2 separate regions of the Homo sapiens genome follow, and region 1 is linked to region 2. The links come from fine-mapping of genetic effects on plasma protein levels. A gene starts in region 2. The other region holds a variant in brackets. All regions are shown on one strand. Distances are from middle to middle. Region 1 has its middle 21 kb from the start of CCN5. Region 2 holds the start of CCN5 (cellular communication network factor 5).

Evidence for each region. A credible set is the group of variants that fine-mapping cannot tell apart. PIP is the posterior inclusion probability: the model's chance that the variant is causal. Protein levels are from antibody-based Olink assays in UK Biobank. Linkage for the fine-mapping came from a reference panel and not from the study's own genotypes, which makes the PIPs less certain.
Region 1: its variant is the best candidate, but not a certain one, in a credible set for the plasma level of the CCN5 protein (UK Biobank, PIP 0.88).

Annotation. Positions count from the first base shown.
Region 1 is chr20:44,688,700-44,700,190 of GRCh38, reverse strand. No RefSeq gene overlaps it. Among named protein-coding and RNA genes, the nearest start is that of CCN5, 21 kb to the left of the region's middle. RefSeq lists an enhancer at 2,932-2,981 and a silencer at 3,672-3,721. The variant C/T (reference allele first, on the strand shown) is at 5,931.
Region 2 is chr20:44,707,422-44,718,499 of GRCh38, reverse strand. It overlaps CCN5 (cellular communication network factor 5), which reads right to left and starts at 3,131. Exons shown (of 4, transcript NM_003881.4): 1 at 3,050-3,131. The coding sequence starts at 3,109. KCNK15-AS1 (KCNK15 and WISP2 antisense RNA 1) reads left to right here. Exons shown (of 5, transcript NR_132377.1): 4 at 1,707-1,875; 5 at 6,512-6,638. LOC124904911 (a long non-coding RNA gene) reads left to right here and starts at 3,726. Exons shown (of 2, transcript XR_007067598.1): 1 at 3,726-4,559; 2 at 9,030-10,097. RefSeq lists a silencer at 3,538-3,832.

The DNA.
Region 1 (11,491 bases), 19 kb after region 2:
CCTTTTCTAACAATGCATCCTTGGGCAAGTTACTCAATTTTTAAGTGCCTCCATTTCCTCATTTGAAAAATGGGTATAATCATAGTCCCTACCTCATAGGATCATTGTAAAGATGAGATGAAATCCAGCATGTAAATGCTTAGCCCAGGGCTTGGCACATGGTGAGCACTTGGTAAATATTAGCAATCATTGTTTCCAGGCTGTCGACACAGAGGAGGAGACATGGGACAAGGAACCAGTAAATAATGGGAATCAAACCATGCTACAAGGGGATAAATAATAAAAAGGGTATAATATGTACAAGTGGAGGGAGAGACGAAGGCCATGGCAAGAGGTCCAAGGCAGGGCCACTGCTGGGAAACAGGCCCAGCCAACCTCAGAAAGGCAGTCAATAAAAATAATAGGAACAGGCTGGGTGCGGTGGTTCACGCCTGTAATCCTAGCCCAGCACTTTGGGAGGCCTAGGCAGGTGGATTACTTGAAATTAGGAGTTCTAGATCAGCCTGGCCAACATGGCGAAACCCCGTCTCTACTAAAAATACAAAAATTGGCCAGGTGCGGTGGCTCACGCCTGTAATCCCAGCACTTTAGGAGGCCGAGGCGGGCGGATCACGGGGTCAGGAGATCGAGACCATCCTGGCTAACACGGTGAAACCCTGTCTCTACTAAAAATACAAAAAAATTAGCCAGGCGTGGTGGTGGGCACCTGTAGTCCCAGCTACTCAGGAGGCTGAGGCAGGAGAATGGCGTGAACCCGGGAGGCGGAGTTTGCAGTGAGCCGAGATCACACCACTGCAGTCCAGCCTGGGCGACAGAGCGAGACTCCGTCTCAAAAAAAAAAAAAAAATTAGCCAGGCATGATGGTGCACACCTGCAATCCAGCTACTCAGGAGGCTGAGGCAGGGGAATCACTTGAATCCGGAAGGCAGAAGTTGCAGTGAGCCAAGATCGTGCTACTGCACTCCAGCCTGGGTGACACAGCGAGACTCTCTCTCAAAAAAAAAAAAAAAAAAAAAAAAAAAAAGAACAATAACAGAATTTTCCCCACAAGTGAGCACTAAGGGCATGCTACATGCTGTGCTAACATGCTTTGTATACAATATCTCATTTCCTTCCCACGACAACCCTGGGAGGCAGGGCTGGGGCCAGGTTGAGGCAGCAAGGTGACCAGGGTGCAAATCTACCGAGGCCCTCACCCCGGGGCCTGAGCAAGTGCAGGGTTGGCGCCTCAGAACAAGCACCTCCCTAAATGTTATGCCTTGAGCACCTGGCTGGCTTCACCCTAGTCCCAGCCCTGCTGAGAGGTTGGTATAATATTTAGTCCCATTAGATTGATGTGAAAACCAAAGTCCCCCCACATGAGGCACCTGTCCAGTGAATGTCACATAGCTGGGGAGGAAGAGGCAGACCCCAGGATTTTGAAGCCTAGAGTTATTTTTACTCTGAGGAGCTGCCTCCCAGCCTGGACATGGAAGGTTCCAGTCCACCTCCCAGTGGTCCAATAACTGGAAGAGCTGCTTAGAACCACCCTCTTCTGGCTGGCCTGGGTGGCTGGGAGAGCTGGCCTCCTGGGTGGAGGTCTGGAGATTCCTCTCCACATTCCTAGGGGTTAAATCTGGGGACCCGGGTTCCCAGCATCAGCCATCACGTTCCCCAGAAGGAATCTCTATTCATAACAAACCCTAAAGGTCACTCGTCTGGGAAGGAGTCTTCTGTCTCCACCCCAGGGCAGGACAGAAGGCCCCAGGCTTTGTGAGAGCATCAGGTCCCCAGAGGAAGATCACCTGCTTTTGGCCAGCCTGTGAGCCCCTCTTCTTCCTCTGGGTCTCCTCTGTAGATGGTATCTAAAGAGGATGAATAAACATCCCAGTTGGAGATGAATGGCCATTGCCCGCAGAGAGCAATTGTGCGCTAAATGCATGGGCTCTGAACTCAGCCTGCCTGAGCTCAAATCCCCCTTTCATCACCTGCCAACCATGTGGCCTTGGGGAAGTTACTTTTCCTCTCTGTGCCTTAGTTTCCTCTTCTGTAAAATGGGGGATAATAACACCTACCGCACAGGGTTGTCATGAGGATTTAACGCCTTCTACTCACTCAGCAACTATTTGCTGAAGGCCTACCAACTTCCAGGCAGTGAGTAATATGGCAGTGAATACAACAGACAAAACTCCTTACCTTCATTTTTTTTTTTTTTTTTTGAGATGGAGTCTCGCTCTGTCGCCCAGGCTGGAATGCAGTGGCACCATCTCGGCTCACCGCAGGCTCTACCTCCCGGGTTCATGCCATTCTCCTGCCTCAGCCTCCCAAGTAGCTGGGACTACAGGCACCCGCCACCACGCCCGGCTAATTTTTTGTATTTTTAGTAGAGACAGGGTTTCACCATGTTAGCCAGAATGGTCTTGATCTCCTGATCTCGTGATCCGCCCACCTCCGCCTCCCAAAGTGCTGGGATTATAGGCGTGAGACACCGCGCCCGGCCATCTTCAATTTTTTAAAAGGAAATATAGTGAAGAATATTATATACTTCAGAAAATGCCAGCACCAAAAAACATGATGCAAATACAGTAAAATGTTAACAGTTGGAAATCTAGATGATGGGTAAGCGGTAAATGGGTCTTCATGATAGGTTTTCTGTATGTTTGAAGTTTTTTATAAATAAAAGGGAAAAGAAAAAAGAGGGAGAGAGAGAGAGAGGAATATCTGCCATTTTGAAACTTACAGTCAAGTGGGGAAATAGACAATAAACACATCAGTATAGCTGGACGTGGTGGCACGTGCCTGTAGTCCCAGCTATTCGGGAGGCTGAGGCAGGAGAATCGCTTTAACCTGGGAGGTGGAGGTTGCAGTGAGCTGAGATCGTGCCACTGCACTCCAGCCTGGGTGCAGCCTGGGTGACAGAGTGAGACTCCATCTCAAGAAAAAAAAAAAAAAAAAATGAAAACTTGTGGTGTGTCAATTGATGTTAAGAAGAGGAATAGAGAATGGCCAGGGTGGTAGAGGAAGTTCCTTTTAAGTCAGGCAGTCAGGGAAGGCCTCCCTGGGAAAGTGACAGGGAAAGTGACATCAGACAGGAGAGCCTAGTTCTCCCAGCTTCCAGGCCTAGGTGCTCCCAGTGTCCATGTACAACCTTCTGCCCAGGAAAAGAGTCATTGTCAAAGCCCAGGACCCAAGCCTCTTGAGACTGTGGGATCTTGAATTATGTGCAGCAGATATTCTCAGTCTGAAATTCAGATGGGCTGGAAATGTAATCTATTTTAAATTCATTCTCATTTCAATGCTCCATTCCATATGTGGGCAGAAAATTCATCTTATTCAATTGGGATTTTTTTCCCCAACCCCATCACTTTCCCAGCTCCATTCATTTTTTTTCCCCAATTGTATCTAGGCGTGAGGTTGTCTCTGGCCCTCTTGGCCATTTTATCTCTTGAGATCCTCCCTGCTCTCTGCTTCTGAATTCTTCAAAGCTCTCTGGGGCCCACTGACCAACAAAATCCAAAATATGCTCACTCATAGCTTTTTCTCTGACCTCCTTCCCAGCCTTCTTAGATGGGAGGAAGGAGGGAGGGGAGGGGAGAGCTGTGCATCAGTCAGGGTAGGGTGAGTTCTGCTACAGTAACAGCAACGCTCAAGTCCTGTTTCTCAGTGGCTCCTGATGCACGTCCCCTGCTGGGCAGCTGCTGCGCTGCTCTGTGTCTCCTTGCTCCTGGATCCCAGCTGATAGAACAACCACCATTTCAACTGTTGCACAGCAGAGGGCAAGAGAAAGCATCAAGCCACAGACTGGCTCCTAAAGTCTCCCCCAGGAAGTGGCACACTTCACTTCTGCACACATTTCATTGGCCAAAGCTTGTTACTTGGCTGTACCTAACTTCAAGCAGAGGAGGGAGTTCAAGTGGAAATCCTACTATGGGCCTGTGCTGTGGTCTGAATGTGTTCCCCAAAGTTCAGATGTTGAGACCTAATCCCCACAGTGATAGCCTTAAGAGGTGGGGCCTTTGGAAGTTGATTAGGTCAGGAGGGCTCCACCCATGAATGGGATTAGTGTTCTTGTAAAAGAGGCTTGAGGGAGCCCATCTGTCCCTTCTGCCATGTGAGGACACACAGAAGTCACCATCTATAAGAAACAGGCTCCCACCAGACACTGAGTCTGCTGGAGCCTTGATCTTGAATTTCCCAACCTCCAGAACTGTGAGCAATGAATTTCTGTTGTTTATAAATTACCCAGTCTAAGATGTTTTGCTGTAGCAGCCTGAACAGACTAAGGCACCCTAAAAGGAAAAGAAACAGAGTATTTGTGGACAGTCCCTAAAGACAGTCACAGAAAGTGAGAGCCTCTTTCAGATTCATTAGGTGTTCAAGATGCCCAAGTCTCTTAGGAATGTTCTTTCCTGGGAGGAAGGGGTGTTTTTGAAACCCAGAAATGTATTCTCTGCTTTTACTAACACATCTGTTTCCTGAGTCAGTAGATGTTCTGCAGTCTAACTGCCTAAATAGGGAACAAAAAATCCAAGGAGAAAACTCGTGCAGCCTTAGATTCCTGGATTTTGAGTATCATGTAATCTTAGACTGGAATCTGAGAAAATGGGACCTGAGAATCTTGCAACCACAGATTTCAAACCTGAAAGGTCTTTGAATCTAATTTCACTTTCTATGCAGTAACTGTCTTAATAATCTTCCTTGCAGGTGGCCACCAGACTTTCTCTGCTTGTATCCTCCCAGGACCACAGAACTCATCGCATCCCAAGGCAGCCTATTCCATCATGGATGAGCTCAAAGTGTTTGAAAGTTCTGCTTTATCAAGTGAGCCAAACTTCCTCCCTCAGGACCATCCACTCCAGGGCCCAGTTATTCTACTGGAGGAGTGAGGGTAAAGCCATCACCAGGACAACCTTGGTGACAGGCTGGACTGGCAGCCAGCTTTTGGGGATGACTTCAGGGAACCCTGAATAGCCATGGGAGCCAAATGTATTACTCCTCTGATGCCTACAATTCCACTATAATAGTCTGGTGGGCTTCTGTTAGGGAGGCTTATACATGGTGGAAAGAATAAAGGCTTGGACTCAGCCTAGGTTCAAGTACTGCATCTTGACCTGGCCTGTAGGCAAGTCTTTTCACTTCTCTGAGTTTTGGCTTTCTCATTTGTCCAATAGGAATAACAATAATGATAATAATAATACCTCCCATGCAGGATTGCTAGTATGTTCAATGGGATAATATATCTAAACACCTCACACAATGCCTGGCACATAGCAGGTGTTCAATTAGGTCTGTATTAAAATCCAGGCTCTGTCTCTTATTATTTATATGTCCTTGGACTTCATTTCCTTGAACCCTAGACTCCCCATCTCTAAGGTGGGGTTGATATTACTCACATCCCACCAGGCTCTGGTCAGAATCTTTTAAGTGTTTATTTACAGATAATGTGCCAAGTTCTTTATCTGAATTGGACATTTAATCCTTTACTCTGTGGGTAGAATATTTATAATCACCCCAATGTTTTCAATGGGGAAACTAGGGCTCAGTGAGGTTGATTGACTTTGCCCAAGGTCACATGGCTGGTGAGGTGGCAGACTCAAGATTTGAGTCCAGGCATTTTGCTCCCGTGTATACACTGTGTGTATAAAGGACCTGGCACAAAGCAGCCAGGTCATTTTGTGCTTGAACTGCTGCTCTGTCCCCAACTTCCCCAAAAAAGCACAACATCCAGAGTAGGCCAAAGCTATGTTACTTGGCTCTACCTAACTTCAAGCAGAGGAGGGGTTTCAAGGGAACCAAGTATTTGTAGTGCAAAGCCACTGAGGTTTTGGAGTTATTCGTTGTAACAGCTGGCATGGCTTAACCTTGTCCTCTTAGCTGTTTTCAGCATTTGCACCTGAGTGTCAATCAGCTAGGATGTTTTAGGCTGCAAGTAATAGAATACCCTATTACTC[C/T]TGAATTCAATAATAGGTGCCTTCGCAGTCAAGAAATCTGGAGGTTACGTGGCTCCAGTTTTGGTTCATTCAGAGGTTCAGTGATGTCATCTAGGACCCGCATTTTGGCTTCAGCACCCTCAGTATATTGGCTGTAGCCCTGAGGCTTGGCCCGTCATGCTCTCAACATGGCTGCCAAAGTTCCAGACATCGCATCCTCATGCAACCACTTAAAGGGAAAGAATAGGGGACCTTCCCCACACCCCTTTTTATATAATAATTGAGGCCAGCCCTTCTCAAACCTCCTGTCCCAGCATACTTTCTTTATGTTTTATTGGCCAGAACTGGGTCATGTTCTTGTGGAAGACTACCAAGGCTCACCAATAGCCATCTTCTTCTTCCTGGGCACACATGTGGGATACATTTCCCAGCCTTCTTTGCAGTTAGATGTGGTCATGTGACTGAGCTCTGGCCAATGGGATGTAAGCAAAAATAATTGTACTGATTTCAGGTCTGGCTTATAAAAATCTTCTACCCACAATCTTTCTGCCATCTGCCTGCTGAATGGAGAGGACTCTGAGAATGAGGAAAGCCACAAATAGGAAAAGTCTCAATCCCTATATGACCTGCAGAAAACAGAGCCCTCCTGTCAAGACTTATTGCAGTTTGATGTGAGAAAGAACCAAGCATTTATAATGCAAAGCCACTGAGGTTTTGGAGTTATTTGTTACAGCAGTCAACATGGCTAAACCCAAGGCATAGAAGGACGGAGCTCAGGGAGACAGCTGCCTTCCTCACATGCTGGGGCTAAGAGGGGTGCGAGCAGGGAGGAGAAGGGCTTCTGTAGATGTCCAAATCTGACCCAGGCCAGCTTCCACCACTGTCTAGCTGTGTGACTCTGGGCAAGTGCATGACCCTTTCTGAGCCTCCTTAAATAGTTACGTGAGGCAGTGGGACTGGAGGCTCTCACCCTAAGTGCCCATATGATTATGACATTCACTGACTCCTTCCTCACAGCAGCCAGTGGCCAAAGAGAAAGGGTGTGGCTCCCCTAGGGGCTCCGGGTCAGGGTCACTGCTCTGTCTGGAATCTGGGCTCTGCTGCCCAGAACGGCCCTCCTGATGTCTGGAATTCCACCATGAGTGACTCATGCCTTTGGGAAGCCACTGCCCTGACCCCACTGAGTAATAACAATAACAGCCCCTCGTGGCTTTTTCTTTGCTGAGAGTTTCATAGTCCATGGTCTAATCTGGTCCCCAGCACACGGCTGTGAGTAGGCAGTGAAGGTGGAGAGAGTTAGAATTGCCATACACGATGCAGGAAGCAATGTGCCCACAGCTACACAGCAAGTTAGTGGCCAAGCCTAGAGTCCTGGACAGTGGCTTTTTCCCCAAAAACCCTTTGCTTGAAAAGGCTGCCTCTGATATTCGTGTGTCCATGTTCATAGCAGATTATTCACAATAGCCAAAAGGTGAAAGGCACTCAAGTGTCCATTGATAGATTAGTGGATAAGCAAAATATAGTGTATCCACACAATGGAAGATTTTCAGCCTTAAAAAAGGAAGGCAATTCTGATACATGCTACAACAGGGATGAAGCTTGAGGACATTATGCTAAGTGAAATAAATCAGTCACAGAAAGATGCATACTGTGTGATTCCATTTATAGGAGGTATCTGTCAAAAGTAGTCCAATTCATAGAGACAGAAAGTGGAATTGCCAGGGGCTGGGGAGGGGGAAATGAGAAGTTTCCTTAATGGGTTTAGAATTTCAGTTTTGCAAGATGACGAGTTCTGTGGAAGGATGGTGATAGAAACTCAATAATGTGAATGTACTTAAAGCCATGCATTGTACATTTAAAATTGCTTAGATGGTAAATTTTATGTTCGGTGTGTTTTGCCAAAATGTAAAAGTTAAAAAAAAAAAAAAAAGCTCTCCTAAGAGGTAGATGCTAAGTTCTAATATTTTTCAGGACATATAAATTAGTTTACCATGATTTGTATCAGTCAGGATAGGCTAGGTCATGCTGCTGTAACAAACAGCTCCAAATTCTGACTCTAGATTAGACTGCCCTTACACTAACTCTGTTCCTCCTGGAACATTCTTCTTTACCATCCTAAACCTCTCCCTACTCTGCCTGTATCCCAAACCTGGAATAAGGCAATAGAATCAGACATACTCAAACTTGTCTGGCTGTGTGACTGTGGGCAAACCAGTTAACCTCTCTGGGCCTCAGTTTACTGATCTGAAAAATGGGGACAATAAATGAACCTTGAGAAGAGAATTCAAGGAGTATGGAAACATTTAGCATGATCTAGGGCATAGTGTCAGGCTGTGGGTATATTTAAACCTCATGCAGAGCTTGGCACCCAGGCAGGAATGGGGTAGGCTTCAGTCTCCTGCCAGTCAGGCCCTCAGCCTGAACAATCTCGAGAACACCTTCTTCCAGCCAGCCTTGCGTCAGGGCCGGGGAATGGGTGGGACAGGAGCCAGAGGCTGCAGAGACAGCCGTCTAGCGCCTGGGATACTTTTCTCCCCAATAATCTGTTTTCAATCTTTCATTATTATATTTTTTTCTTTTTTGAAAGCCATCCTGCCAAGCAACAGGCATGCAAGTGTAGTCAACTCCCAGCCCAGCCTACATCAAAGTCTTTGCGAATTTCTGCTTTGAATCATGGGGTAGGGGACCCTGCCTTATATCACATGTGTCCAGCCTCCACACTTTTGCAAGTGTGCTGTTTCCACACCCTGCCATGCCCCATGCCCTCTGTCTTTCCAGATTCTGTTCACCATCTGTCAAGGCTTGGCCACAGGGCTCTCCCCTGCCAACAGCTCTCTGATGTCTCTCCCTCCCTTGTTAACACAACCCCTACAGTCTCACCAGAGCTGGGGACATGTATTGAATTCTCATCTTCTTTATTTAACACCTTTGAGGGCAGGGACAGCATCATCCACTTTGTCTGATGACTTTCATGAATCGATAAAGTGTTTTTTGTCACCACCATACCAATGGCAGGAGAGATGATGAGGATGTTTATCCCCATTTTACAGATGAGAACATGGAGGTCATGAGACCGGAAGTGATAGTCACCCGGTTGGGGAATCAGGCCCTCTATCCCGACGCCCTCGCTCTCTCTAATCTACCCTGCTGGGCTGAGCACACAGTAGGTGTGTGCCTAAATGTGCATGAGTAGGGGGCTGGGCAAAGGCTGGGGACTGGCAAGCTCTTCCCTGAACTCATTTCCTCTTCTGCCTGGACAAGCAGTGAGTCTACATTTCCAACCTTCCTTGCGAGGAAAACAAAGTCTTCCAGTGGACTGATTATGAAAGCGGGCCAGATTCTGCACCACTATCTGTTTCCACACCCCTTTGCAATGTGACTTTGCCTTCGTTCTCTCCAATGTGGGTTGGCTTTGGGACTCTCTTTGGTCCATTGAATGTGGTGGAAGTGACCTTGTGCTAGTTCTGAGCCTGAGCCTCAAAAAGAATGCAGTCCTTGCAGTCTCTCTCTCTCTCTCTCTCCCACCCTCTGCTCCCCACCTTCCCCCACCCCCCTGAACCTGACCCACCCCCGCCAGCCTCCTCCACCATGAGACAAGCCAAGGCTAGCCCACTGGAGAATGGGACCAACTCTTTTTTTTGAGACGAAGTCTCACTCACTTTGTCATCCAGGCTGGAGTACAGTGGGGCAACCTCTGCTCGTTGCAACCTCTGCCTCCCAGGTTCAAGCGATTCTTCTGCCCCAGCCTCCCAAGTAGCTGGGACTACAGGCACACACCACCATGCCTGGATAATTTTTGTATTTTTAGTAGAGGCAGGTTTTGCCATGTTGGCCAGGCTGGTCTCGAACTCCTGACCTCAAGTGATCCACCTGTCTCGGACTCCCAAAGTGTGCCTGGCCCCAATTCTTACATAAGACAGTTCTACCATCACTTTAAGTCACAAACATGGTCTCAACTCAAATTTAAAATGTCCAGTCAAGCTATTAATCCAAACTCCCAATTGGATCTAGGTTTAAACCTTCTCCCCTTGCCCAGCTGGGGCCTGTCCTGGGGAGGCAGTTTGGGGGGCTCCTTCTCTGGACCTCCTCCCCTCCCCCACAAGTGGGGGCTGTGGAGATAGTAAGGGGAGGGGAAGGGTCTCACTTGAGCTGCCGCCATCCTGCTGGCTTCCAGCTGACAGTGTCACAGATGTCCCACAGATGGCCATTGCTGCAGGGCTCCCTCACTCTTGACCCTGGGGGGGATGCACTTCTCCTTCTGGAGGTCCCTTGCAAGTCCTTCCTCGGCCCTCAGGAATCCAACATCCAACTCCAGCTTCTTGCTGCTAAGACCACTCCACCCTCCAGGAGGCCCTAGGGAACAAGACCCAAGCAGACCCCTGCAAGCTACCCCCACCCCAGCCCACAACGAATCCCCAAACCCTTCCATGTCCCCTGCCTGGCATCTGGAGGGGCAGTATTGGCCCCCTCTGGGTGAGGTCTCATAGCTGGAGCTGCCGCTCCTCCTGCAACACCTCCTCCCCAAACCCCAAGCCCTTTATTTTCCCACAGTCAGTGAGGGGGTGAAGGCTGGGGAGAGAGATCCTCGGCCACCTTCTTTGTAAATCCGTCGGACCTGATGATCCAGTCTAGAATTTCACATCTTTCCTATCCTGGGGTCTTCTGTTGAATATTTTGATATATTTCAACATAAGGAAACAGGACTTATATACTGTTCTTGCTCTGGATTTTATTATCTTTGTATCTTACATATTTTCTCACCTTTCCTTATAGATACCTCACTTGAAAAATTTTAATTGCAGCAAAATATACATAACATAAAATTTAGCTAATTAGGAAGGGCACAGTGGCTCACGCCTGTAATCCCAGCACTTTGGGAGGCCGAGGCAGGTGGATCACGAGGTCAGGAGGTCGAGACCATCCTGGCTAACACGGTGAAACTCCGTCTCTACTAAAAATACAAAAAATTAGCTGGGCGTTGTGGCAGGTGCCTGTAGTCCCAGGTATTAGGGAGGCCGAGGCAGGAGAATGGCATGAACCCAGGAGGTGGAGCTTGCAGTGAGTCGAGATCACGTCACTACACTCCAGCCTGGGTGACACAGCGAGACTTCATCTCAAAAAAAAAAAAACCAAAAATTAGCTAATTAATCATTTGAAGTGTACAGTTTTGTGGCATTAAATATAGTCACATTGTTCTGCAACCATCACCACCAAACCTCTCCAAAATGTTACCTTGCAAAACTGAAACTCTGTACCCATTAAACACTAACATCCTATTCCCCCTCCTCCCAGCTCCTGGAATTGCCATTCTACTTTCTGTCCCTATGAATTGGGCTACTTTTTTTTTTTTTTTTTTTGAGACGGATCTCACTCTGTCGCCTAGGCTGGAGTGCAGTGGCGCGATCTCGGCTCACTGCAACCTCCGCCTCCCGGGTTCAAGCGATTCTCCTGCCTCAGCCTCCCCAGTAGCTGGGATTATAAGCACATACCACCACGCCTGGCTAACTTTTGTATTTTTAGTTAAGATGGGGTTTCACCATGTTGGCCAGGCTGGTCTCAAACTCCTGACCTCAGGTGGTCTG
Region 2 (11,078 bases):
GGAAGTATAATTCAAGATGCTTCCAGTGGCCCCATCTTTGGGGGGCCAAGTTTGAGTTTAGTAGGATCCTTAGGGGATGAGGGTTTCATCTAGAGGAATGGAGGCTTGCAGTTTATAATGATGGAATTAATGACCTCATATCTCCTGTGCAGCCCCAAAGCAGGCAATGACCCCTTTGCTCTGCCTCACCCTCTGCCCCGCCCAGTGCCCCCACTACCCACAATCCTGCAAACCTGCTTTCAGTTCCCGGCAACTCCCACGCCGGCCACTAGGAGCCATTGCAAACTGGCTGACCAGCCTCTGGTGGGGGCCACAAAGTAGGAGGCGATCACAGCCCCCACTGAGACAGCACTGAGTAGCAGATGGACACACGGAGCTAGGTGTCTGGCTGCCTCACAAGGGAGTGGATCCCATCGCTGCAGGCTGTTCAGATTCTAGAGACGATGGCCTAGCCTCGCCCCTCAAGGTGTGGTCTGAACTAGCAGCAGCAGCGTCATCTAGGAGCTTGTCAGAGAGGCAGCATCTGGAGCCCCTCTATAAATCCGAAGCTGAATTTTTATATAATAAATCCGAATCTGCATTTTCTTTTCTTTTTCTTTCTTTTTTTTTTTTTTCTTTTTTGAGATGGAGTCTTGCTCTGTCACCTAGGCTGGAGTGCAGTGGCACGATCTCGACTCACTGCAACCTTCGCCTCCCAGGTTCAAGCAATTCTTGGGAGGCCTCAGCCTCCCAAGTAGCTAGGATTACAGGTGCATGCCACCATGCCCAGCTAATTTTTTGTATTTTTAGTAGAGACGGGGTTTCACCATGCTGGCCAGGCTGGTCTCAAACTCCTGACCTCATGATCCACCCACCTCGGCCTCCCAAAGTGCTGGGATTACAGGCATGAGCCACCACGCCCAGCCCGAATCTGCATTTTCATAAATCCACAGGTGATTCACATAGAAACGGTCTAGGCTTTTGGGTTCCCTTCTAAGTCAGAGGTTCAGCTCCCTTGGCTTGTGGGCAATGGAGGGAGGACTGTCAGAAATGACTCTCAGGTCCCTCCCACCTGAAAACAGGAGTGCCAGGAAATAGACCAGCAGCTGTGCACCTTGGCTCCCACTGTGGACCCCTCTACTGGCCATGCTTGTCAGGGGGCAGGACTCTGTAGGCCCCGATACCCAGGAGAGGCTATTAATGATATCAACTATTCTAGTGTACAATTATCTCATGTGATACCATATGTATGTCATGTGCCAAGTGCTGTTGTCTCATTTACCCCTCCAATGTGAGGTGCCATCATTATGCCCATTTTAAAGATGAGAAAACTGGAGCTCAAACCGTGTAGTAACACAGCCAGTAAGAGACAGAATCAGGATTGACATCCAAGTTCAAGTTGACATCCAAGGCCCAAACTCAAGTTGTCCCATTGTGCCTCAGTTTCCCCAGGGCCTTGCTGTGATATCTGGTGGTGGGGGGCAAGGCTCATGATATCTGGGGCAGGAGTACTGGGCATGGAGTTTTTTGGGCAAGAGTTGAGATTCAAGTTCTGCCAGTGACTTGCTACGTGACTGAACATGTGGACAAACGGCTTTGGAAGGTGGAGGTGAAGCTCAGTTTTCTCCTCTGTAAACTGGAGTAGAGACAACCTGTTTCTGAGTGATGATGGAGATTAAATGAGGTTCTGGCCAGTCCTTGATCAATGTGATTTTGCTTGTGTCCAGGTGTCTGCCTCCTGCCCCGGTCCACAGCCAGGAGCCCCGGAGCCAACGGCCAGCCTGGAAGACTTACAGTTCTCCCTCTGAGGGTTGCTGTGGCTTTCCATGTTGTGGTGACTAAGTCCCTGTGTTTCTGTGCAGTCCCTGCTTCCTGGGACCAGGGAAGAATGGTCCCGTAAGTCTCACCCTAATGGCAAGTCTAGGACAGCTTTACTTTGTTCTCGTATAATCCTGGGCCCCTTCTCCCTCCTAGAGCCCCAAGTCCCCTATTCCAACTACCCAAGCCACCCACACTGGCATCATGCCCTACCCATCCCCTTTGGAAGAACAAACAGCAGGACAGGATGCCAGCGTGGTTCTCAGGCTTCCCAGGCACGAAGACTTGGAGCCTGAGGGAGAGAAGCTCCTGCCCGTGCTCCTCAAAGGAGCGTGAAAATACAGTGAGATCGTGGCTTGTGGTGGGGCCGATTCCATGGCTCTGGGAACTCAGCATTTGCCGAGGGGATGACAAGGCTTAGCAGCTGTGGCCTTGGTCCAGTTTGGGCTTGGGGAGGCACAGACTGGAGTGCTTCTCCCCCTACATCCATGTCATTCTGGGCTCCACCATGGCTCTCCTCTATTGCTCTGACCTTTCTTTGCTGTGTGGCTTTGGGCAAGTTGCTTACCCTTTCTGAGCCTCACTTGACTGAAAACTGGGGTTGCAAGTTGCTTACCCTTTCTGAGCCTCACTTAACTGAAAATTCCTTATGGGATTGTTGTGCATGTTAGACAAGGTAGATGTCCCACAGGCTCTTTGGTGAATGTCCCATGCAGCATTCAGGGATAAGGCCATTACTCCACAGAGGTGTCTCCTGTTCCCCTCTAGCTAGGGCGGGCGGGTCACTCACTGCCTAAGAGTCCAACAGCATTGATGCCCTTGCAGAATGAACCTTCCAATCAGCTAGGCATCCATCCAAATGCTGGCTCAGAGTTAGGCCAAGCATGTCATGTCTTGAGTGCCCCCATTCATAATGAGGATACATTAAAGTCCTCTTCAATTTGCCTGGTAAGTTTGATGAATGATCATGAATGGTCTTCACAGAGGCCTCACAAACTGTATACCCTTCACCTGGGAAGATGCTGAGGCCCAGAGAAGGCAAGACACATATCTGAGGTCACACAGCAGGGCTGGCCGGAGGCAGCTCTGAGTTCCAGGGAGAGAAGCCCTGCTTAGGCATGGGGGCCAGACTGTGCCCAATGTGGGGCCCTGGAGGAATTCTGCCAAGGGGGTCCTTGGCTGCGATTTTACATCCCCACCCCCTCCACACCCAAATAGTCAGCAGTGCATTCCAGGGCCCGGGCCTCCTTACCTTTGAGAGGAGGCAGAGGAGGGAGAAGGCCAGGAGGTGGGTCTTCGGTGTGCCTCTCATGTCCCCTGCAGAGCCAGCTTTGAGCCTGGGAGGCGGACCTGTGAGTCTTTATGTTCCGGCAGCTGTGAGGTCACTCCCAGGCACACACAGGCACACGCACGAGTACACACGCGCGCGCGCGCGCGCGCTCACACACACACACACACACACACACACACACAAACACACTAGCTTTTTCATTCCTTGCTTCGCTTCCCATCCTCATGGCTCAAAGGATGAGCCCATTTACCTGAAGGTGAAACTGTGAAGGCCACCAAGGGGGTGCCTGTCCGTGTGTGTGTGTGTGTGTGTGTGCGCGTGTGTGTGTGTGAAAGCCTGAGCCAGTGCCAGCACCAAGAGCCTGTGACAGCTTGCAGAGGCCTCTCCAGCTCCTTCCAGCCCAAGAGGGTCCTAGCCCTGCTGTAGTTGTGAAGCCCTATTCCAGACCCCCTGTCCGAACCCCAGCGGGGCTGCAGATACCAGAAGCATTCAGTAAACAACCCCTTTGCAGAGCTGACCCAAGGTCTCCTAAGCTCCGTGGCCCTGACTCTGGGTAGCCGCGGCCCAGCCTGCGGTTTCTGGCAGGCAGATTGGCAGCCACCCAGAGGTGGGTGTGACCCAGAGCAAAACTTCCCTGGGCGGCCTGTTTGCTCTTGGCAATAAGGGGCCTCCCTTGGCCTGCCTCCCGGCTCTGGAAGGGGGCCCGTGGTGGGCGAGTCCGGGCAGGCTGGACCTACTATGTGCCAGCGCTTGCTGGGCACCGCTAGATGATGGGGTCAAGCCAAATCCATTTGGTTTCATTCGGCCGCCTCTGAGTTCGCCTCTGCAGGAGCTGGAGGCACAACACTGACCTGAGGACAAGGCCCAGAGAGGGAGAAAACAGAGGGAAAACAGGTGGAAGTTCAGGAATACCAGGCAAGGTCCCTTGCTCAGACCAAGAGTGAGGGACACTTTCTGATGGAGGTGCCATTTCAGAAAGCCAAGAAAAGAGAGGGTGAGAGAGGGCAGAATGTTCCAGGCCAAGGGAACAGTACGTACCAACGCCTAGATGTCGGACATAGCATGATAGCCTGCTTATTCTGGGAGCCAAAGCGCCTGGTATGAGTGGAGCCTTCTGTGCAACGGGAAATGGTGATGTCTGTGAAGGGTGAGACACACAAGTTCACATCACCAAGATTTGGGGACATCTACTATGTGCCAGCCATGGGGGCGGGGGACAGAAAGACATGGGCTTTGTTTGTAGAATTTGGCAAAGATAAAAGAGGTGATGTCAAGGGCTGTCTGGGGCCCCCATTACCTCCACCAGTAGTTGTCCAAACCTCAAAGTGATCTAGCTGGATAGCAGAGGTTCCAGAATGGGCGATTGGTGAGGAAGAAGTGTGACTTGATATAGTGGCAAGACGGGGATTGTGAGCATGGAGGAGATTCCCCACGGGTGCTGTCCCATCGGAAGAGGCAATGGAAACGGAAGGTGAAGATGAAAGTGTGGGATTTGATTATTTATGGCAGGAAGAGGTGGCCAGGGTGGAGATGGGGGTCTGGAAACTTGGAGGAAAAGAAACAGAAGGGATCTTTTAAATTTTGTTTTATTTTTTGGGATTCTTGTGGAAATGCTAATGTTTTAGTCAGAAGCATGCCTAGAATAATTTACATCCACAGTGGATCATTTTTAACACCCCTCTTCCTTCATAGTACAAAATTATTTTCAGTAATAATCATGAAACAAAACAAATATTTTTCATGTATGAATTAAAATTTGCACTTACCAAACAAAATCATTACCATTCACAGTTCACACTGTTTTACTCTTTTAAAAACTGTAAATACAAATCAAAACTCCAAGTAGTTTCGTAAAATGACAAAATTGAAATACCCTTATCGTCATCTTTCCCATCATTCTGCGTTCATAGTTGATTTCACTCTACTGTTTAAACACAGAAATACAGCTGGGCCGGTGGCTCACGTCTGTAATTTGGGAGGCCAAAGTGGGAGAACCACCTGAGATCAGGAGTTCAAGGCCAGCCTGGCCAACATGGTGAAACCCGTCCCTACTAAAAAAAAAAATACAAAAATTAGCCGGACGTGGTGGGTGCACACCTATAGTCCCAAGTACTCAGGAGGCTGAGGCAGGAGAATTGCTTGAACCCGGGAGGTGGAGGTGGCAGTGAACCGACATCTTGCCGCTGCACTCCAGCCTGGGCGACAGAGAGAGACTCTGTCACACACACAAAATAATAATAAAAATAAATGCAGAAATATGAATGCTGGACGGTGGAGACAGGAATGCATTCAAAGCAAGCTTGGAAGATTCCAGAGTTGTGAGGAGCTTACTCTCAACTGATGTGTGTTCCTGAGACCACATGCTCTGGGGGCAACTATAGGATTCTTAAAGTTCTCCAAGTCAAGTTGACTTCCATGTAGAATATGTTTATTAAAGGATAAGAATAAAAATGTGCTGATTTGAAGCTTTACATATACATTATTAAACCCCAACAGTTACTGCACCAATTGTTAGAACTTAGATCAATAAAGGGTATTTTCAGGACAAAGTATTTTACCACTGAAATTATTTAGATCTGCCATTGCACAGTGATCATAAAAGCAGACTGACTTCTCATCAGTTTTATTTTATCTTTAAATTCTGTAGGCCCCCCACCCGTTATTGCCTGCATCCAGGAAAGGTCACTCCGACTTTCCTGTCCTCCCTAGGCCACTGATATTAATAAAAATAAAAGCAATTGTGTATAGCACCCAGCAAGATCCAGCCCTTGTGCTAAGCACTGTTTATAAAAAGCAGCATTTCTAATCCTCATGATCCACATCTCAATTGAAAAAAGTGAGGTTCAGAAAGGTTAAGTAACTTGCCTAAAGCTACACAGCTAGAAAACAGAGCCAGGTTTTCAGTGCGGGTTCATATGACTCCAACACCCAAGTTTCAGTTTTTGATGCTGTTTATTTCTGCTACTGTCCATAGAGCTCTCTGTGATAATGTTTTTTAAGTTGAGAGGTAATGTATATACAGAAAAGTGCTTAAAGTGCACTAATATGAAGTGTAGAGCTTGACAACTCTTTCTTTCTTTCTTTCTTTCTTTCTTTCTTTCTTTCTTTCTTTCTTTCTTTCTTTCTTTCTTTCTTTCCTTTCTTTCTTTCTTTTTTTTGAGACAGAGTCTCACTCTGTCTCCCAGGCTAGAGTGCAATGGCATGAACATGGCTCACTGCAGCCTCAGCCTCCTGGGTTCAAGGGATCCTCCCTCTTCAACCTTCTGAGTAGCTGGTGGCATGAGGCAGCATGTTTGGCTAATTTTGACTCTTGACATATGTATATACATGACTGTATATACCCATGTGATAATCACCCAGGTCAAGCTACACTTCCAGAAGTTTCCTTATGCCCCTTCCAAGACTCTACCCTCTGTCCTCCAGGTACCCGCTATTCTGACCTCTGTGGCCACTGATTAGTTGTTCCTGAAAGGAACAGTTTTAAGCCACTTCTATCTCTGAGGCAAGAAGGAAGACGGGAGAAATGAGGAGGTGTGAGGAAGAGAGTTGGAGGGAGACACGCTGGTCCCAGCCATGTCCATAGCAGAGCAAGGAGACCTTGACAATGAGGAGGTGAGGTGGGCCATGGGTGCCACGTATGGTGAAGAAGACAGGGCCATACGGGGCAGGGAGGTGGCAAGAACGAGGCAGAGTGCTATGCCCACCTAGGGCCCTCTGAGTCAGAGCATGGATTTTTCTTGGAACTTTTTCTGTCTGATAACTGAGGATGGGAAAGTGTGGGCAGTAGGGGCCCTGGGGCCTGGCCAGATCAGGAAGCAGGCGTCATCATCAAGGGTGTTTGGTGATGAAGTGTGAGGGATGGAGCTTGCACACACAGTTCAGCATGAGTGGGTGTGGCAGGAGCGGTGGGAGCTGCCACTTTGCTGATTGGTTTGCTGCGGTTCAGCCCTCCCTTCAAACTGTCCAATTTTGGCACCAGAGGGATATAAGCATCCAGGGAACCCATGAGTCTTTTGGCTGCAGCCGCAGCCCCCACACAAGGGCCCAGGGTGAGTGTGGCTGTCCTTTGCTTTCCCAGGAGGAAGCACAAGCTCAGAAGTCAACAGGTCCGAGCTTCAAATCCCGGCTCCCGCTACCGACTTACAGGGCTGGGACCAGGGTGAGGTGACAGAGGCATGTCGGGTATAACATTTAGGGAGGCTCTCATTCTCAGCTGCTGACCTTGCACTTGCACAACCCCAAGAGTGAGCACCTCATTCAGAATGAGGCACCCAGGTCACACAGGAGTTCATGGTAGGAACTCAGTCAATGTTGGTTGATGGCTAAATGACAATTTCCGTAAGACTGTGCTGAGATCACAAACTAATGCCCACATCTCAGTGGCTTAACCCAGTGAAGCTAATTTCTTGCTCGTGAATGGTCCAAAGTGGGCCAGGCACATCCTGTAGCTCCTCCCTACTCAAGTGTGTGGTCCAAGGACCGATGGCATCAGCATCAGCTGGTTGCATGTTGGAAATGCAGACTCCCAGACCCCACTATCAGGATCTGCATTTTAGTAAGACCCCCAGGTGATTTGCATGCACATTACAGTTTGTGAATCCCTGTTCTAGACCGGTGGCCTCCAAGGTCACCTTGGCAGGAAAAAAGAGGGATGGAGAAGCCACATCATCACTTCTACTCACATCTTATTAGTCAGAGCTAGCCACATGGCCCCAACTTAACTGCAAGGAAGGCGGGGAAATACCATCATTCCATGTGTATCAATGAAGGAGAACCAGAGTGAGGGACATCTAGGTAATATTCTTTGCCGCAGGTACCTTGGCATCTGGGACACACACTTTTGCTTCTCTGGGTCTCAGTTTCTCCATCTGTTAAAAAAAAATAAAAATAAAAGCGGCCTGCATGTTCTTCCAGGCCTGGGCCAGGCTGAACATTTTTAGCGTCTAAGAAATGCATCTGGCCGTGCGCGGTGGCTCACGCCTGTCATCCCAGCACTTTGGGAGGCCGAGGCAGGCAGATCACTTGAGGTCAGGAGTTCGTGACCAGCCTGGACAACATGGCAAAACCTTGTCTCTACTAAAAATACAAAAATTAGCTGGGCGTGGTGGCCCGTATCTGTAATCTCAGCTACTCAGGAGGCTGAGGCAGGAGAATTGCTTGAAACCGGGAGGCGGAGGATGCGGTGAGCCCAGATCGCGCCACTGTACTCCAGCCTGGGCCACAGAGTGAGACTCCATCTCAAAAAAAAAAAAAAAAAAAAAATGCATCTGAAAAGTGAAACTTACGAAACATCACCATCAAGGTACAGCATATGGAAGCCACAAGTAAATATCTGCGGTTGAAAGCCCTTTGCAGTTTGTCAGCTCCCGAGGTGTGTGCCCGCTTTCCCGCTTACGGCCTCTACCCCATGCCAAGTCCCAAGCCGACGCTGGGGAGGTGGAGCTCACAGGTGTGACATTAGGTAGTGGGGACAGAGAAATACAAAACAGATCCTGACCCCAGCAGGGCTGGAAGTGAGGAGGGGCAGTGCTGTAGTGGCTGGATGTACCAGGGTGTGAGGGGACACCTGTACCATGGGAAGGTCAACAGTCAGGTGAAAATCCCAACTCCGCTGCTAATTTGCTTTGTGGCTGTGTGTAAATTCCCTCACTTCTCTGGACCTCAGTGCCCCAGTTTCGTGTTTTGGAGACTGAGATCTGTGACAGAGCCTGATCAATGCCCATTCCAATATCCTTCTTCCCTCCTCCCTCAGTCACCAAACACTGATTTTTTTGTTTGGGGTGGCGACGCACTCAGCTTTGCAGGAGGCGGGGCCACGGGATAGGTTCCAGCACGGAGATACAAGCAGGAGTGTTGTGTGCCGATTCTGGAAAGGCTCCTTAAAAGGAAGGGCTTCCCTTTGGTGACTCCACCACCACTGATTGCTGCCTCCTGCTTCCAGTCAGTAATACGGACGTGATGGTGGAGTTCTGCAGCCATCTTGGACCATGAGGGTACCCTGAGGATGGACTTCGTGTGCAGAAGAGGGCGAAGGAGAAATAAAGGAACTCAGATCCCTGATGACACCCAGAGCTGCCAAATGCACCCTACATGTAGATTTCATTCATGTGATTAGAAACATAATAATGTGTGTGTGTGTGTGTGTGTGTGTGTGTGTGTGGTGTGTAGAGAGAGATATAATGTTTTATATATATACGCTATTTTTATACTTATGTATATATATACCTTTATTTATTTATTTATTTTGAGACAGAATCTCGCTCTGTTGCCTAGGCTCGAGTGCAGTGGCGCAATTACGGCTCACTGCAGCCTCCACCTCCTGGAATCAAGCAGTTCTCCCACCTTAGCCCCCTTAGTAGCTGGGACTACAGGTGTGTGCCACCATGCCCGGCTAAATGTTTTTTTAAAAAATTTTGGCAATATGTTGCCCAGGCTGGTCTTGAACTCCTGAGCTTAAGCAGTCCTCCCACCTCGGCCTCCCAAAGTGCTGGGATTACAGGCGTGAGCCACCATAGCCAGCTGTGCTTTTAAAATGTGTGCATGTGTGTATATATATATGTATATGCATTTTATATATAATATATTTATATGTATATATTATTTTAAAACCTTTCTATTTAAGTCAAAATTATGTTGTGTTTTTCTGGTTAGTTATTGCTGATGTAAAAGCGTCATTGATTTTTGTTGCTGACTGTGTATCTGGCAACCTTGCTGAACTCTCTTATTTGTTCTAATATTTTGTCAGTTTATTTGGTTGGTTTTTCAAGGTAGATGATCACACCATCTACAAACAATGACAGTTTTATCTCTTCCCTTCCAATAATTACACCTCTTATTTTCTTTCCTTGTAGCTCAGCCCAGCTCTCCAGCTCTATGTATTAAACAGTAGCAGTAATAACTAGCATTCTTGCCTTGTTCCTCACCTTAAAAGGCATGTATTATATAAAACTTTTCTCCACTAGCAATATTTTCTGTAGGTTTTTGGTATTAAAAATCCCTACTAAATTAAGGAACTTCTCTCATGCTCCTAGTTTGCTAAGAATTTTTAAAAATCATAAATACATAAAGACCTTATCAAAACCTTTTTCTGCATCAGCTGACATCGTTGGATTTTTCCTTTTGATTGAATGATGTAGTGAGTTACACTGGTGGATTTTCAGATGTGGATACTTTTCTGGGATAAACCCTTCCTGATGGTGATGTAGTATCATTATTTTAACTCTGCTAGACTCAGTCAGGAAAGATTTTGTTTAGTGTTTTCCTATCCATATTCATAAGTGAAATGGACCTATACTTTCCTTTGTGGTATTGTCTTATCTGGCTTTTATAATCAAGACAACACTTTTAAAATAAGATAGGTTGGTTTTTTTTTCTTTTGTTTTCTTTTTAAGCAACTTGCATATGATACGAATTAATTGTTTCTAAAAAGTTTCTGCAGGCTGGGCGCGGTGGCTCACACCTGTAATCCCAGCACTTTGGGAGGCCTAGATAGGTGGATCGTTTGAGTCCAGGAGTTTAAGACCAGCCTGGGCAACATAGCAAAACCCCATCTCTACTAAAAATACAAAAATTAGCTGGGTGTGGTGGTGCATGCCTGTAGTTCCAGCTACGTGAGGGGCTGAGGCAGGAGGATACCTGAGCCTTGGGAAGCAGAGGTTGCAGTGAGCCAGGATTGGGCCACTACACCCTAGCCTGGGCGACAGAATGAGACCTTGTCTCAAAAAAAAAAAAAAAAAAAAAAAGGTTCAGCAGTACTTACCCATGAGAACATCTAGGCTGATTTTTAGGGGAGTGGGAGGGCTTTGACACCATTACAGTTTCTGTAATACTGATTGACCTACTGAAATTCTCTATTTCTTCTTGGGCCCATCTTTTGACATTTTATACCTTTCTATTAATTTCTCCATTTTCCCAGAATTTTCAAATTTGTAAGCATCATAAATACAAAAGGAACTTATCAAAAAATTTTTCCACATCAATTGACATCATA